Linked DNA regions of Homo sapiens: region 2 is linked to region 1. The links come from fine-mapping of genetic effects on gene expression. A gene starts in region 1. The other region holds a variant in brackets. All regions are shown on one strand. Distances are from middle to middle. Region 1 holds the start of EOGT (EGF domain specific O-linked N-acetylglucosamine transferase). Region 2 overlaps UBA3 (ubiquitin like modifier activating enzyme 3).

Region 1 (8,339 bases):
ACTTTGCTATCCCACTGAATAATGATCCTTTATTCAATTTTTTTTGAGCACTTGCTTGGTGCCAGGCACCACGTTAGCAAATGGGTATACAGAGGTGAACAAAACAAGAAAGAGCCTTGCTCTCATGGTGCCTTTAAACCTACTACAACTGTCATAAACAAGCAATCAAATAAACAACTTCAGCTGATGACTGGGCCTGTGAATCAAACCAACTAGGGGCCAGCAAACTTTTCCTGTAAAGGAGAAGCAGTAAATATTTTTGGCTTTGCCAGACATAAGATCTCTGTGGCAACTACACAACAATGCCTCTGTCCAAAAAAGTAGCCATGGTCTATTATAAAAGAATGGATGAGGCTGTGTTCCAATAAAACTTTTTAACTTACAAAAATTATGGAAGGGCTTGATAGGATCCAGTTTAGTGATACCTGAAACTAAATAAAGTAATATGATAGACAACATAGCATGGTGAACATTTAAAGCTTAACCACCTGGATTTGAATCGCAAATCTGCAGCTTCCCAGCTGTAAGACCTGGAACAAGTTACTTAACCTTTCTGCACCTAAGCTTTCCCATCTGTAAAATGGAAATAATAATAAACCTTCATCATAGAGCTGTCATGAGTTAAATGAGTTAGTTATTGGTAAAGTGTTTCGAAAACTATCTGGCACATGCTAAATGCTATGGAAATGTTTATTAAATAAAAGTTTAAAGCCATGTGGGGCAGAGAAGGGGCCTAAATAACATTAAAGCTGAGATCTGAATGATGAGGAGGGGAAAAGTATCTGTGAGAGAGCAAAGGGAGTGGGATGGCTCTGAGCAAGTGTGTGTCTGCTGAATAAAAAATTATAATCATAATCAAGGTATGAGCACAGACAATGTTCCAGGAGCGCTTCTGTACTCAGGATACAGCAATGAAGGTGCAGTCACGAACTAAACTCATTGCCCTTGTGAAGCTTACATGCTAGTAGGTATAATAATCAGCTATAATAGCTAAGACTTAGAAACTCCAGGACACTAAGCAGTCTGCCTCAAAGACTGTGCCCTTAAGCTCTCCCATCATGCCTTTACATTGTGAACAGTGATAATGGTCAGAAACCTCACTGCATTTCTAATTCACCCAGTAAGTGTTAAATCTCTTGGACCAGATTTCTCCTATATATCCCAGACAATGATCCTGCCATTCTCAGGTCACTTTAGTGGGATCTTTGTTCTTTTTTTTTTTTTAAGTGCTCTTTCCACTGGATGACAGAGTCTTAATACACACTGGATGTTCATCAGCTAGGACTGCTGTTTCCTGGGTCATACCGGAAAACCCAACTTTCGAAATCAGTCTTCATTGATTATGGGCTGTGAAGATGGAACCTTTAGAAACAGACTGCAGGCCTGTAATAGTAGCACTTTGGGAGGCCAAGACTGGCAGATTGCTTGAGTCCCTGAGTTCGAGACCAGCTTGGGCAACGTGATGAAACCCGGTCTCTGCTAAGAATACAAAAAATCAGCTGTAGTCCCAGCTGAAGTGGGAGGATCACTTTAGCCTGGGAAGTCAAGGATGCAGTGAGTCGTGATCTCGCCACTGCACTCCAGCCTGGGTAATGCGAGGGAGACTCTGTCTCAAAAAAAAAAAAAAACAAAGAAAGAAAGAAGAAAAGGAAATTGACTGCTATGTTCCATCAAACCTCAAGTTCCAAGGCCATGGAATTCTAAGTGAACAGTGGGGACACCAAAAAGGAATCCTTTTTCCCCCATTTTCCCCCCTTGGAGTAGTTAAGTATTGTGGTTTTTCACTTTGGCGGCCCTCAAGAGTATGGTGTTATCTGCTGTAAATCTGATCTGAATTACAATAACATTTTCACTTGGAGCTTTTATCCAAGAATGAGTTGACAGCAGTTTTATAAAAATTTAAAAACACATATTAATAGTAACAATGACTCTACTTGTAATAAAAATATATACCTCTTGAATCTTCAGAACCACTCAGAAGCTTCTGTGATGTTTCAGGTCTCTAAAACCTGTCAGAAATGAAACATATTACCTTAAAAGGATGCTAAAGTAAACCTGATCATTCAGATGATGTTGTGAATTAAAGGAAATATTAAGAAAGAAAATAATGTAACGTGATAACTCTCAGCCAGAAGGCCTGGCCGGTGGTGCGCTTTCTTTTCCTTAATGAATACCACACTGCTATACTCGAGTTCACAGGCACCACCCCCAACACAGCAACTCGGACCAGATTCCAATGGGGAACGGGAGGAGGTGGCCCACTTTCTACAGGCATCCACTGGAACTGGCCAACAGGATACTTAGTGGATCAAACATTCCCAGAAGCAAACAACTTTCCCATTCTCACAGCAGTAATCCCACTGGCTGAATCACAGGGCTACCCACCTAGAGTGGCGAGCCTGAGGGTTCCCAGGCCTTCCTATTTTTTGACTCGTCCTTCCCGGTAATAAAGTCATTGTTATGACCAAGCCCTGACCTTTGGTTATCCAAGTCCATTGTCCTCCAGTGAGCTCTGGCCATCACTAAACTCACCGATCAGTGGAGAAGTAACGCTTAGGCGATGGAAAAAATCTAAAGACGCAGATCAGAAAGCTGGCGTCTGGCGAGGGCATGTACCCACTTGCATAAGGCGGCTGGGGGTGGCTGCTGGGCCTGGCACAAAGCCTTCCTGGTGTCGGTCGTCCTGCAAGGCCCGCCGGGATGGGTGGCTGCACTCCTCCAGCACACGGACGCTTTACTGGCCAGGCTACTTTTCCTTCAGCTCAAAGCAGCTGGAATCACTCCACTCCAGAAACCCTTGATTCGATTTCCACAGGCCTAATGAGGAAGGAAAAAAGGGAAACATCTGAAAGATGATGGATAGGAGGCAAAACCTGGGGTTGACACAGCGGGCGAAATGGGGCAATGTCGCAGAGAGAGAGAGCTTGGAAAAGTTTAAAGACGGCAGTGGGCAAATGGAAAGTTCAACACGTGAGACCCCGAATGACACCTCAACGGCTGGCCCCTACTTGTGCCAAAAAGTCTCTCGGCGGGTGCCAGGCAGGGCTCAGGAAGTGCTCGGCTGCCCCTTGAACGTCAGTCCCGGCAGAGCCCAGCTGTCCGCTTGAACGTCAGTCCCGGCCAAGGGCTGAGGGGTCAGTGGCGAGCACCCCGCCGCGGCTGAGACGCCGCGCTGGGGTTCCGGACCCCGGGCGCCGCCAGGGATTGCTTCGGGGTCGGTGATCTCCCGGGGCCGCCCGCCACCGTGCACCGCGGCGCCCCGGGTCCCCAGCGCGCCTGGGAGGGGCCCCGGGGAGCGGCTCCGCCCCGGCTGGAAACCTGGTCAACGCGGCTAGGGCCCGGGGCCCGCCTGCGCTCCGGGCGCTGGGAAGGGGCCGGGCGCCCGGGGCCGGGGAGGGCCAGGATCGGCTTCCGACGCCCGCCTCCCGGCCCGCAGGGAATGGGAAGGCGCGGGCGGAGTGCGTGCGTAGGCTATAGCCCTCCGGGAAGCCGCGCCGGGAGCGGCTACCACCCGGGCAAGAACAGCGCAGAGCGCTGCGGCGGCGGGAAGGAGAGCGGGGGAAGGCTCCGCAGATTGCGGGGGAGTCCCACCTGGAGCCGGGGCAGCCGTGAACTACCGAGGAGGAGGCGGAGGAGACGGCGGCTGTTCCAGAGGAGGGAGTCGTCATAACCGGCTACTGCCGCTCACCGGAAACCTCGGGCGCGGGAGCTGGGCCAGGGGGCGCCAAGGAGCAGCTGGGACACCTTGGCCAGCCGGCGCCGTGGGCGGGCTCGGGCCCCGCAGAGGCAGGACCGGGACTACACCCAGGAGGGCCAGGGCGCGGGGCCCGACGCTCGGAGCGGCTTCAGCCCGGCGAGCGGCCTCGACCCGGCGAGCGCAGCAGGGAGGGGCTCAGAGTCGAGGAACCATCTGCCCTTCCTGGCGTTCTCCCGCGAACGTTCGCGCGAGTCCGCCAGCTCCCTCACCAGGGCCGGAAAGACCGACGGCACGTGCCGGCGCCGGACGCCCATCTCCATCGCAGCAGCCCGCGCCTCCTTGAGCGAGAGCGTTAAAGCGCTCAGAGGATGTTAGGACGGGGTGGGTAGAAAACCTGACTCTTCGTGTCTTCTGCGTTGCACTGAGGTGGATTTTTACTTTTGTCTTATTTCAAGCAGAAGTTGCCGCCCTAACTTCCAAATTTGGGGACTGAACATCGTTCACCGAATACACTTTGTGATGGTGAGGATACTTTGGAGTCCACACACATTTTAAAAGCAGTATAGTTTTACCTATCCGTAAACTCATCAAGTTCAAATGCTACTCTGTGGAGTTTAATTTTTATGGTTTTGTTAATTTACTTTATTACTGCTTATAATTATTTGAACTCCCATCCCCCACTGTCTTTTCCTCTAAGCTCCCCCAGGCCTAGTATTCCATCTACAGCACAGTAGAGTTGATCATTAAATAGTGACTAAAGTTGAACTGATTATATGAAGGTGATGACTTCAAAATAAACATGCTCAAATGAATATAGTCACCAGAAGTTAAATAATATGATCATAAGGAAACAAGTTTGTTTCCAAAGGCTTACATGCTTTTTACGTAATTTTTAAAAGTAATGTTGTTTAAGAATTGTTACAAGTTCCATTAGTGACCTGCTAAATTAGGAATCTTACCTGGAATTTTTTTCAAATAATAACAGCAAGAACATGTGGTGTTTAACATGTGCCAAACATTGTTTTAAAGCACTTTACAGTATTAATTTATTCTTTTTATTGAAAAGATTTTGCCTCTAAGGGAACTGTCAAGAGGCATGTGAACCGGAGCAACTCCATCTTAAATAGGAGCTGAGTAAAATGAGGCTGAAACCTACTGGGCTGCATTCCCAGGCCGTTAAAGCATTCTAAGTCGCAGAATGAGATAGGAAGTCGGCACAAGATACAGGTCATAAAGACCTTGTTGATAAAACAGGTTGCAGTAAATAAGCCGGCTAAATCCCACCAAAACCAAGATGGCCATGAAAGAGACCTCTGGTAGTCCTTACTACTATACTCCTATCAGCGCCATGACAGTTTACGAATGCCATGGCAATGTCAGGAAGTTACCCTATATGGTCTTAAAAGGGGAGGCATGAATAATCCACCTGTTTAGCATATCATCAAGAAATAACCATAAAAATGGGCAACCAGCAGCACTCAGGGCTGCTTTGTCTATGGAGTAGCCATTCTTTTCTTCCTTTACTTTCTTTTTTTTTTTCCTTTACTTTCTTAACAAACTTGCTTACACTTTGCCCTGAATTCTTTCTTGCTCGAGATCCAAGAACCCTCTCTTGGGGTCTGGATTGGGACCCCTTTCCTATAACAGAATTACTGCTCTATTATTTTATACTTTGCATACTTCACCATCCCACACTAATGACAGTAATTTTTTAAAATGCTTCCTCAAGCCAGGCACTGTGGCTCATGCCAGTAGTCCCAGCTACTCAGGATGATCGCTTGAGCCCAGTGAGGTTGAGGCTGCAGTGAGCCATGATTGAGACACTGCACTCTAGCCTGGGCCACAGTGAGACCCTGTCTCATAAAAAAAAAAAAAAAAAGCTTCCTCAGCCTACTTGCTACCATCCTATTTTTGTCACATACAAAAAGGTTAAAATCAGTATGACATGTGCATGGTACTATTTTATTTTATTTTTTTTGTAGAAACAGGTTCTTGCTATGTTCCCAGCACTTGTTTCCAACTCCGGGCCTCAAGTGATCTTCCAGCCTCGGCCTCCTAAAGTGCTGGGTTTACAGTTGTGAGCCACCACGCCTGGCTATGTGGTGCTATTTTAAACACCTACATATTGAATGGTCATTCAGACTTACAGGAAACCAGATATGATAAACCTGAACATGAGATTGAGTCTCTCTTACTGTAACAGCCATTCTCAAATAGAATTTCTCTCCAAAATACCAATGTTAGAATTTAAATTTTCTTTGAGCTGACATAAAACTCAAGTGTCTACCAATAGAAGGCTGGTTGAATAAACTATGGTTTATCCATACAATGTAAAACTATGCATGCATAAAAAGGAATTGAGAAATATCTCTGTACACTACAGAATATTGAGTGGGAAAAGGATATGTAATATGTAAATATCATTTTTCTAAGAGGAATATGTGTGTATACATGTGTATACACATATATATTTACTAATTATTATTTTACAAGTAGATTAACATTTAAAATGACTATATGGGCAAGGAGGGAAGAGGAGGGGTATAAGGAACAAAGAAGACATGACTTTGTTTTTTGGTGTGTGTGTGTGTGTGTGTGTGTATGTGTGTGTGTGTGTGTGTGACAGAGTCTTACTCTTTTGCCCAGGCTGGAGTACAATGGTGCAATCTTGGCTCACTGCAACCTCCATCTCCTGGGTTCAAGCAATTCTTCTCCCTCAGACTCCTGAGTAACTGCGATTACAGGCATGCGCCACCATGCCTGACAAATATTTATATTTTTAGTAGAGACGGGGTTTCACTGTATTGGCCAGGCTGGTCTCGAACTCCTGACCTCAAGTGATCCGCCCACCTCAGCCTCCCAAACTGCTTGGATTACAGGCGTGAGCCACCACGCCTGGCGTGAAGACATGACTTTGAAGTCATGTAAATATGTTACATTATAAAGCAAAATTCTGTTTTTAAAAAGCAATCCTTGAAAGTAAAATGAAACTAAATGAACCTAAATGTTTTCCAATTGTGGCATATCACCCAGAGGAGCTATCCCAAGTGACTTTAAAACTTAATTTGTATATACTTAGTGGGATGTATTCTCAGGACTAAAGTACAAAAAAACTCTTTTGTAGACTGCATTCCGTAACCAAATTGTTGGTGGCAATATTGGTATTATGGGATACACCAAGTTGAAGTAATTATGATGGTACCTTTGAAGCTGAAATTTTTGACATGAGATAGAAATATGAAAGCTTAATCAGGCTATATAAACATCCTGTAGTTCTGAATTTCAGTTGGAGGCCTCAGTATGATTAACAGTATGGTTAATCTTTAAAAACACATCTCTCCTACGTGCTCCATTGAAAAGGCCTAGAGACAAGCTACCCAGGAGGAAGAAGCACCCCCTTGCGCTCACACTGTGATCTCTACCAACCATTTCCCATTAAAAGAAACACTGACTCCATAGAACAATGGATGATCTTGGGTCTGGAGCAGGAAATGTACAAGATAAGCCTGCAACATCTTACATCAGGAAGCAGCAAAGCAATCAAAAGGCTATTAGGGTCATATCAAAAGGACTCAGGATCCACCTTGAAAACCTTCCTACTGGCCAAAGATAGGATGATTTAAAACATAAATAAAGGTAACTGTAATTGGATGAAGGACAGATACATTTAAGTAATCATATCAGACACGACCAATCAACCAAACATGCAAGCCAAAAAGGTATCGCTGTTCATTTTTAATGACAGAAGGAAACCAACTCTTATTCTGAAAACTGGTAAACAAAGGGAAAGAATCAGGAATATTTATACTGTCTTTCCTGTATGAATTATGATGCAAATAACAAAATAACTGAAGTAAATTTTTTATGGAAACATTCCAACTACTAAATGAAAAAGAAATGACAATATCACTCCACAAGCTCTGTGAACTAATAGATTTAAGAAGTGATCATCAATTATTTCTTTATCACAACTGAGAAACCATCAGGAATTATCTGTCTCCTGCTGGAAGAATACACTTCCACCTAATGAAGTATTTTTGTTGAAAAATAATTGCCTTTAGATTTAAACACAGGAGGCGGAACACACTAACAAAAGGTAAGAAATCAACATCCAGATGGAGGGAAACTATAGGACAAATGACCTAGTTTTTTCTACAAATAAGAAACTTCATCGAAATTGCAAGAATTAAGAAAAAGAGAGACAGAGATGGAAGAATGCATGGCTTAAAAAATTTGAGACAAATCCAACAAATTACAATGAGTAAATTGCTAACAATATCAGCAGAATGTAGTATACTGGTTCTCTCATCCAACTGTTAGACCATAATTAAAAGGTGTTGACATTTTTAATGAATAAATTTTGGCTGTAACTGATCTATATGCTTATGATTTTACAGAAAAGCAGTAGGAAAAGTAGCACCATATAATTAATTATTGAAATCATAGACTCTGGAGCCAAACTGCACAAATTAGAATCCCAGCTTTGCCACTTACTTGCCATATGACCTTGAGCAATTTACTTAATCTTTATTTTTAAAAATGGGGGTGATAATGGCATCCATTTTAAAAGGTTGACTTGATGATAAAGTGTGGGTACACACTTCCTTTTCCAAAATCCTTGGGTCCCTGTGTGTGTCTGAAC
Region 2 (8,339 bases), 51 kb after region 1:
TTCTATTTTGAGACGAAGTTTTGCTCTTGTTGCCCAGGCTGGAAAGCAGTGGCGCAATCTCAGGCTCACTGCAACCTCAGCCTCCTGGGTTCAAGTGATTCTCCTGCCTCAGCTTCCTGAGTAGCTGGGATTACAGGCATGTGCCACCACACCCAGCTAATTTTGTATTTTTAGTAGAGACAGGGTGTTGCCATGTTGGTCAGACTGCTCTCGAACTCCTGACCTCAGGTGATCCGCCTGCCTCGGCCTCCCGAAGTGCTAGGATTGCAGGTATAAGCCACCGCAGCTGACCTGAAGACAATTTCTGTTCAATATATAGAATATTTGTCTAACAGTCCTGTCCAAATGTGAAATAGACTGTCTCTAAGAGATGATGAATTCAGTGGAAGATAAAATGGACAGTTTGACTTGGATGACTTATAGCCTAAGTAAGTAAGATTCAATAATTTTATTAAATTCCCCCTAGCTAATAAGTAGTATGAATTACATGGTACCTTTACTGAACTTCAAGTGGATGGTACTGTCTAAACTCACTTATCGATTATTCTCCTGAAAGCATCCCAGCCCTAAGTCATCCCAACATCATAATTCATGACAATTTGCTGACTTACCTTGAGTGAGCCTATACGTAACACCCCTAATATTATATTGTGATGCTCTCTCTAGGGATTTTTGGAAAATCCATTGTATATGTTCAGGATCATCTCCATCTAATGGAACCCCTTCTGTTTAAAAAAAAAAAGGGAGAGAGAGAGAGAGAGAAGACAGGAATACGTAATCACAAAACAATGTTTTTAATGAAATTATCCAAAGGAATAATATAGAAAAAATATGTATTTTATGTAATTCTAGATTATTAAATTAGGTTTATTACCTCCAAAAGGCTGCTCCTTAGGCCACTGCAACATCCTTACATACTCAATACAGTGTTCTGGTAGCCTGGGCATAGATGCAATGGTGCACATGGGAAAATTAACCTAAAACCACAGTTTGTCCTTTTCAGTGAATTTTAAACGAATTATTTTAAAATGCAACTTCCAGTTATGATCTAGTTCTTAACAATTTCATACAATTTGTTTCAACTCAAAATATTGTATACCATTAAAAATGCCTCTCAAACTATAATACAGATTAACTGAGTCACTTCACTTAGGCTGCACTGCCTGTAAAGACAGGTTTGCCCTACATTTACAAGGTATAAAATTTAAGCTTTGTTAGACTATGAGAAGAAAAATACTGAACAGATTTTCTCAAATATGAACACCTTGTTATTTTTACCTAATATTTAAGTATAAAGCAAACCAAAACAAAAGCAAGTTCAGAGTTAAGTGAATCCCAAGTGAATACTCATAAAATTGTTTACATTTATTATTCAAAATTTCAAGTGTTCTTTAAAGTGGATATGTAAACCAAAAAGCCCCATCCTTGGAAAGATCATTCTTATCCCTGGTATCTTTATTTCCCTGAAATAAATACAGGTGAAAACCACATAGATTACAGCTTGACATCAATATACAACTTTGTAATTCTACTTGATACCTACTCCCCAAATAAAAAATACAAATAAATTATGAAAGCAGAATAGTATCAAAACAATGTACTCGGTTCATATCTTTCCTCAAATAGAGCAGAATTTCATATTTTATCTTTCTTCTTAGTGTAATTTTTAAAATACGGCCACTTCTAATTAACAATCCTAAATATTAACTAGACTTAATAATTAATCCCTAATTCCATGCCAAGATACTATAAAAGAAATGCAGGTGCTTTTTTGATTACCTGTGGTGGATAAAGTTCCAGCGTGCATTCGATACAAGCAGTCATTCCAGGCAGAATCACCCGGGCATTTCCTTTAAAACCTTCTGTCCCCCCATCTATCAAAGGGACAATGGAGCTTGGATCTAAGACACCATCTTCATAATTTAGAAGAGATATCTAGGAAAACAATTTGAAGGGCTTTAAAGGAGAAGGGGATAAGAATTCAAAAGAAGAAGTATGCTTTCAAGTAATCCTATGAGTCGGTTGTGCTATTGAATACCAATGTATCAAATCAAGGGATTATAATAACAATTTGTGTCTTCACCTGAAAACCAATGACTGGCAATAAACAATGAAGTAAATATACTTAATTAAAAATTAAACTCTGATTTTTCAAAAATATATCAATTCTAATTTTGGGGATGTGAAGCACAGCAGCAAGAACTTCAGAGAACTATAACAATACTAAAGTCTTTACCAGCATGCCATTTATCCATCTTCTGGCGATGATAGAGTCCAGTCCACATACAATAATATGAAATTCTACAAAAAAAAAAAAAAGCAACTTTAGTTTTTAAATATGTAGTTGCATGATGATCTTTCAATGTAGATTCATCAACTGCAACAAATGTACCACTCTGGTGCAAGATGTTGATTAGGAAGGTAGTGTGTTTGTGGGAACAGGAAGCTCTATGAGAACCCAAGTTTTCAAAAATTTTCTGTTCAATTTTGTTGTGAACATAAAACTGCCCTAAAAAATAAAGTTTACTAATTAAAAAAAAAAAGCACTTGCAGAAAACAATTTGCACGTTCTAAGAAACCAACAAAAAAACCACAAGCACTTTTTACTGTAATCCCACATACGTTCTCAGAGCTCCAATTCCTTGAGTGAACTCTCATTCAGGTAAGCATAGAAACTTGTAGCTGGTCATGTCAGCTAAAACTAGCATTCTCTTTTCAGTCTATCAGCAACATTACTGAAAAGCCAACAGTGAGAGAGGAAAGCAAGTGAAGAAATAGCCTTGAAATAGCTAGCAATATTTGAATAGCTACCAACTAAAAAATTCTAAGAATCTAGTGAGCATTAATTTCAAGTAAAAAACTTACGTCGATAGAAAGTGTCGTTAAAATCTTGAATCTTGTTGAAATGTCTGAATACAAGTAAAGGAACTTAAGCAGCTAAGTTTTAATTTCTAAAATGAATTTGACAATGCCATAAGGAACACACTCTGCATATATTTACAACAAGAAATAAGTAATCAATGTTCACATCAGTGGAATTCAAGGAATCTGACTAAATGAACACAACTCTCCTTTCTGACAAAACTTTTCTGCCATTCCTCCCCTAACTACTTACTTTTTCTCATTCCTGAACCCCTATATCATTATATTTATGCCCTTGGTAGGAGGTATACTTTCTACTTTGCTTTGGTTTTTATATAAAACCATAAGCCCCAGGAAAGCAGAATGTGTGTCCTCAATCATCAGCATCAAGAAGAGATGCAATAAATGTTTTAGTGAAGGAAAGATGCACATTATAGTTCCTATTTTGCTAGGTGATTTTAAGAGTTACTGCAAAGCTCATTTTTTTAACATACAGAAAATTTCAACAGCTTTTTCAGTTGGTAAAGATTTTACTGTTTTTATTTTTTGTGGGGAGGAGAAAAAGTACGAATTTTTTCTACCTTTCTCATTTAACTCAGTTTTCAAGTTACCCTACCAAATCCTATTACCAGTCTTCCCATCCCTGGAGGCTAAAAAGGAAACTCCATTCAAAACTGATTGTGGGTGAGTCAATATAGCACTTAATGTTTTAATAGCACATGTGTGCAAAAACTTGTTTTAATTTTTCTAATGAATGGAGCAATTGTTTAATAATTTATAAATTATGCA[A/G]CTTCTCTAAAGTTAAGATAAATAGTCCACTATAAATTTTTTAAAAGCAATACAGAGAAAAAAGGGACAATACATAGAAAAAAGGGACAATACATGCTTCCTCTAGATTTTTAATTCTTGCCTACAAATAAAGCTATGAACAATAATTTCAATTCTAGCCCTCAGTCATTCAGACCTCTATTCCCTTTGAATGCTAGGCAAGCAGGAGAACGAAGCTACAGCTAGAAAGAGGTCAAAAAAGAAACAAAGCAAACAGTGGAGGAATGGCAATCAGGGAACCAAGAGCCAGACTAAGAAATCTAATCTGGATTTCTAGAAAATACCCAAAGTTTCCCAGACCCACATAATGGGGATAGACAAACTGAGTGCCCCCCACTAACCAACCCACCCCCACCAACTCTTCCTTTTTCCCTACAGGGGCCTGTATTTGCATTTTTAAGCTCTTTATTTTGAAATAATATAGATTCGCAGTAAGTTGCACAGATAGTATAGGTAGGTACCATGCACCTTTCCCAGTTACATCTTACTATAGTACAGTACCAAAACCATGAACAGAACATTGGTACAATGTGTGTTTATAATTCTGTCATTTAAACACACATAGATTTGTGTAACCACCACCCCAGGCAACACACATAACTATTCGACCACAATAAAGATCTCTCTGCAGCCTCCACATCCTGGGCTTAACTGATCTTCCTGCCTCAGCCTCCCACATAGCTGGGACTACAGGCATGTGCCACCATGCCCGGGTAATTTTTCTAGTTTTTACAGAAATAGGGTCTCATTTGTTGCCTAGGCTGTTCTCAAACAACCAGGCTCAAGTGATCTTCCCGCCTCAGCCTCCCAAAGTGCTGGAATTACAGGCCTGAACCACCACACCCAGCCATCTCTATAATTCTGTAATTTCAAGAGTATTATATAAACAGAATCATGCAGTATATGACCTTTTGAGACTGGCTTTTTTTTTTTAGTCTAATAGTTGTGTAACAGTATCGCTCATGGTGGTCTTAGTTTGATGTGAAACATCTTTTCATGTGCTTTTCGTCATCCTTTTTAGTAAAATATCTCTTCCTATCTTTTGTCTATTTTCTAATTGAATTTTTTTTTGTTTTACTGTTGAGTTTTTAGAGTTCATTATATACTCTAGATATGAGTCCTCCATCAGATGCTTTACAAGTATTTTCTCCAGTCTGTGGCTTTTCTTCATCCGTTTAAGAGGGTCTTTCACACAGCAAGTTTTTAATTTTGATGAAGTTCAGTGTATCAATTTTTTCCTTTTATGGCTCATGCTTTTACAAAAAATTATTTTAATTTTTTAGAGATGATGTCTCACTACATTGCCCAGGCTGGAATGCAGTGGCTATTCACAGTATGACCACAGCCTACTATAGCTTCAAACTCCTAGTCTCAAGCAATCCTCCCACCTTAGCCTCCCAAGCAGCCAGGACTCTGTAGTGGTATGATAAAAGCTCACTGCTTCCTCAGTGATCTGCACCACCATACCCCACCTTTTACAGGTCTTGCTTTTGACGTGGCCTAAGCACTCTCCACCAAACCCTAAAGTTCTATCGTTTTATGGTTTTTTGTGTTTTTTTTTGTTTTTTTGAGATGGAGCCTTGCTCTGTCGCCCAGGCTGGGGTGCAGTAGCGCAATTTCAGCTCACTGCAACCTCAGCCTCCTAGGGTCAAGCGATTCTCCCACCTCAGCCTCCTGAGTAGCTGGGAGCCACTGTGCCCGGCTAATTTTTGTATTCTTAGTAGAGACGGGGTTTCACCATGTTGGCCAGGCTGGTCTCGAACTCCTGACCTCAAGTGATCCACCCACCTCGGCCTCCCAAAGTGCTGGGATTACAGGCATGAGCCACCACGCCTGGCTCATTTTATATTTTATATTTACACCTATAATCCATTTTGAGTTAATTTTGTATGTTTAGGTCAAAATTCATCTTTTAACTATGGATATGAAATTGCTCCAGTACGATTTGTTGAAGACTATGCTTCTTCCATTGGAACTGTTTTGCACCTTTATCAAAAACAAATTGGCCATACTTATATGGGGCTATTTCTGGCTTCCCTATTCTGTTCTAGTCATCTATATATCCCTCTGGTAACGCCACTGAGTCTGGATTACTATAGCTATATAAGTCTAGAATTTGGATAGTGATTCCTCCCACTTTCTTTTTCAGATTTGTAGTAGGTATTCCTTTGCTTTTCTATATAAAATTTTAGAAGATCGTCTATATCGACAATTTTGCTGGGATTTTAATAGAAACTATGGTATATATGTATACAAATTTAGGGAGAAATGACATCTTTACTATATTTAATCTTCCAATCTTTGAAGATGGACTATCTCTCCATTTATTTAGATTTTCTTTGGTTTCTTTCATCAGCATTTTGTAGTTTTTCACTATATAAATCTCTTACTTATCTTGTAGTTTACATCTAAGTATTTATTTTTCTTTCTAAGCAGTTGTAAATGGCATTGTATTTTACATTAACTTTCACAAGTTCACCGGTATGTTGATTTTGTATTCTGTGGGACTTTCTACATAGAAATCACATCTTCTGACTTTCTATAAAATGCCAAAAGTTCTCCAGATCTAAATTCAAACTACAGTGTAAATACTCCTTTTTAAAAACATATTTCTTGTAAAAATAAATTTACTGTGATGTACCTTCCATTTGGCTAATACTATATTGACTGTCTACTCTGTCTGCTACTATAAAGAAACAAAGATTAATTGGATCCAGCCTAGGAATTTACACTCTAGTAAAGGAGATATGTAATTGATACTGAAATTAAGGGCAATAATGCAAAATAAAGTAGATGATGAAACAGGCTTTATAAACTTAAGTTAAAAATCAGGGCCCAAAAAATATTTATATAACCATACAGAAAAGACTGGAAGAATAGATAGCAAAATGTTACCAGCAGTTATCTCAGTAATAAAGTTACTACTGCTGACTTTTTTTCCCTCTTGCTTATCTGTATTCTCTGTTAAATATCTCTTATAATAAAGGAAAAAAGCTTTTAAAAATTAAGTAATTTTCTTTTTGTCAAAAGGATACGGAACTACATTGCAATTAGGAACTCTGTCATTTAGAAATTCTGCAGCAACTTCAGCCTTAGGTCTTCCAATATCTTTAGGCCTACAGGAAAAATATTTAAATTATAATTCATATTATAAATCTATATGATCTACATAACTTATTTTCAAACATAAAAGTAAATTCACAGTAAGTTTACTTATAGGAAATTTAGAAGGAATATTTTTGCCTAAGTATTTTGATTTCAGTAATAACTTTTGGTAAACGGTCATTTAACCTTAAATGTCAACCCTTGCTAATGGTCCAAATTAACATAAGTCTAATTAAGTATTGCTTTAATTAAGAGAAAATCTGAACAGTGTTCTTCCTCCCAGATAAAGCATAATAATGCTATGATTCCTGGCCACTTTCCACTGTAAAAAATTATCCCACTCTTAGAGCTCAGAACCTTATGGTGTTACTCCACAGGTCTTGGCTGAAATATACACAATAAGATTCATCCTTGGGATGCAAGAACCTTCATTTAACCCCTTCTTCCTGTGTGTGCTGATTAAGCAGCAAATTTTGTGTCCCCTAAGAAGCTGCATGAAAAAGAAAAAAAAAGAAAAAAAAAATTTCACTGGACCGTATATAAAATGGAAAAAAAAAAAAAAAAGAGGCTGTAACCACGTTTTTTTCTTTTTTCTTTTTGAGACGGAGTCTCACTCACTCTGTCACCCAGGCTGGAGTGCAGTGGTGCGATCTCGGCTCACTGCAACCTCCGCCTCCCAGGTTCAAGCAATTCTCATGCCTCAGTCTCTAGGGAGGTGAGATTACAGGTGCCTGCCACCACAACCAGCTAGTTTTTGTATTTTTAGTTTTGCCATGTTGGTCAGGCTGGTCTCGAACTCCTGACCTCAGGTGATCTGCCCGCCTCAGCCTCCCAAAATGCTGGGATTACAGGCATGAGCCACCATGCCCGGCACCAAGTTTTTAAAGAAAGAATAATACCAAAAGTGTCAGCTAAAATTGCAAATGTTACTATTACATCACAGAAGCTGAATATATAAGGCCTCAAAAGGTCACTCTTAAAACAATAACCACACATATAGATAGGAAAGGATATGAATTTCCTCCTCTAAGTTCTATACAAATGGTATTTTCTTTCCTAATATTTCCATATTCTCCTCAGAGAAATCACTCCATGTATATAATAAGAACATTATTACTTTTTTCGTAACATATTTGCTACATACACGTCTATCATACCCACTAGACTATTATTTGGATGAAAGTGACCATGTTCTTACTCTCTTCATATTCCTTCCTACCTAGCACACAGTAAATACTTTTAAAATAAATGAAAATAATAAATCGTGTGCTTATTAGAAAAAAATCTGAAATTTCAAAGAAAAACACTTTAGCATGTCAATTTTTCTTTTCTTTTTTTTTGTTTGTTTGAGACAGAGTCTCGCTCTGTCACCCACGCTGGAGTGCAGTGGCACAATCTCGGCTCACTATAACCTCTGCCTCCCAGATTCAAACAATTCTCCTGTCTCAGCCTCCAGAGTGCTGGGACTACGGGCATGAGTCACTACGCCTGGCTAATTTTTGTATTTTTAGTAGACACAGGGTTTCACCGTGTTGGCCGGGCTG

The links. PIP is the estimated chance that this variant, and not a neighbour inherited with it, causes the effect.
Region 2: its variant is fine-mapped to the expression of EOGT in testis (GTEx, PIP 0.91).

What each region holds. Positions count from the first base shown.
Region 1 is chr3:69,009,983-69,018,321 of GRCh38, forward strand. EOGT (EGF domain specific O-linked N-acetylglucosamine transferase) reads right to left here and starts at 3,702. Exons shown (of 18, transcript NM_001278689.2): 1 at 3,592-3,702; 2 at 2,533-2,817; 3 at 1,954-2,009. It overlaps EOGT-DT (EOGT divergent transcript), which reads left to right and starts at 3,138. Exons shown (of 1, transcript NR_185971.1): 1 at 3,138-8,071. RefSeq lists silencers at 3,020-3,569, 3,630-3,929.
Region 2 is chr3:69,061,203-69,069,541 of GRCh38, forward strand. It overlaps UBA3 (ubiquitin like modifier activating enzyme 3), which reads right to left. Exons shown (of 18, transcript NM_003968.4): 6 at 6,726-6,806; 7 at 2,866-2,909; 8 at 2,237-2,301; 9 at 1,780-1,935; 10 at 875-977; 11 at 612-725. Among named protein-coding and RNA genes, the nearest start is that of TMF1, 13 kb to the left of the region's middle. The variant A/G (reference allele first, on the strand shown) is at 3,652.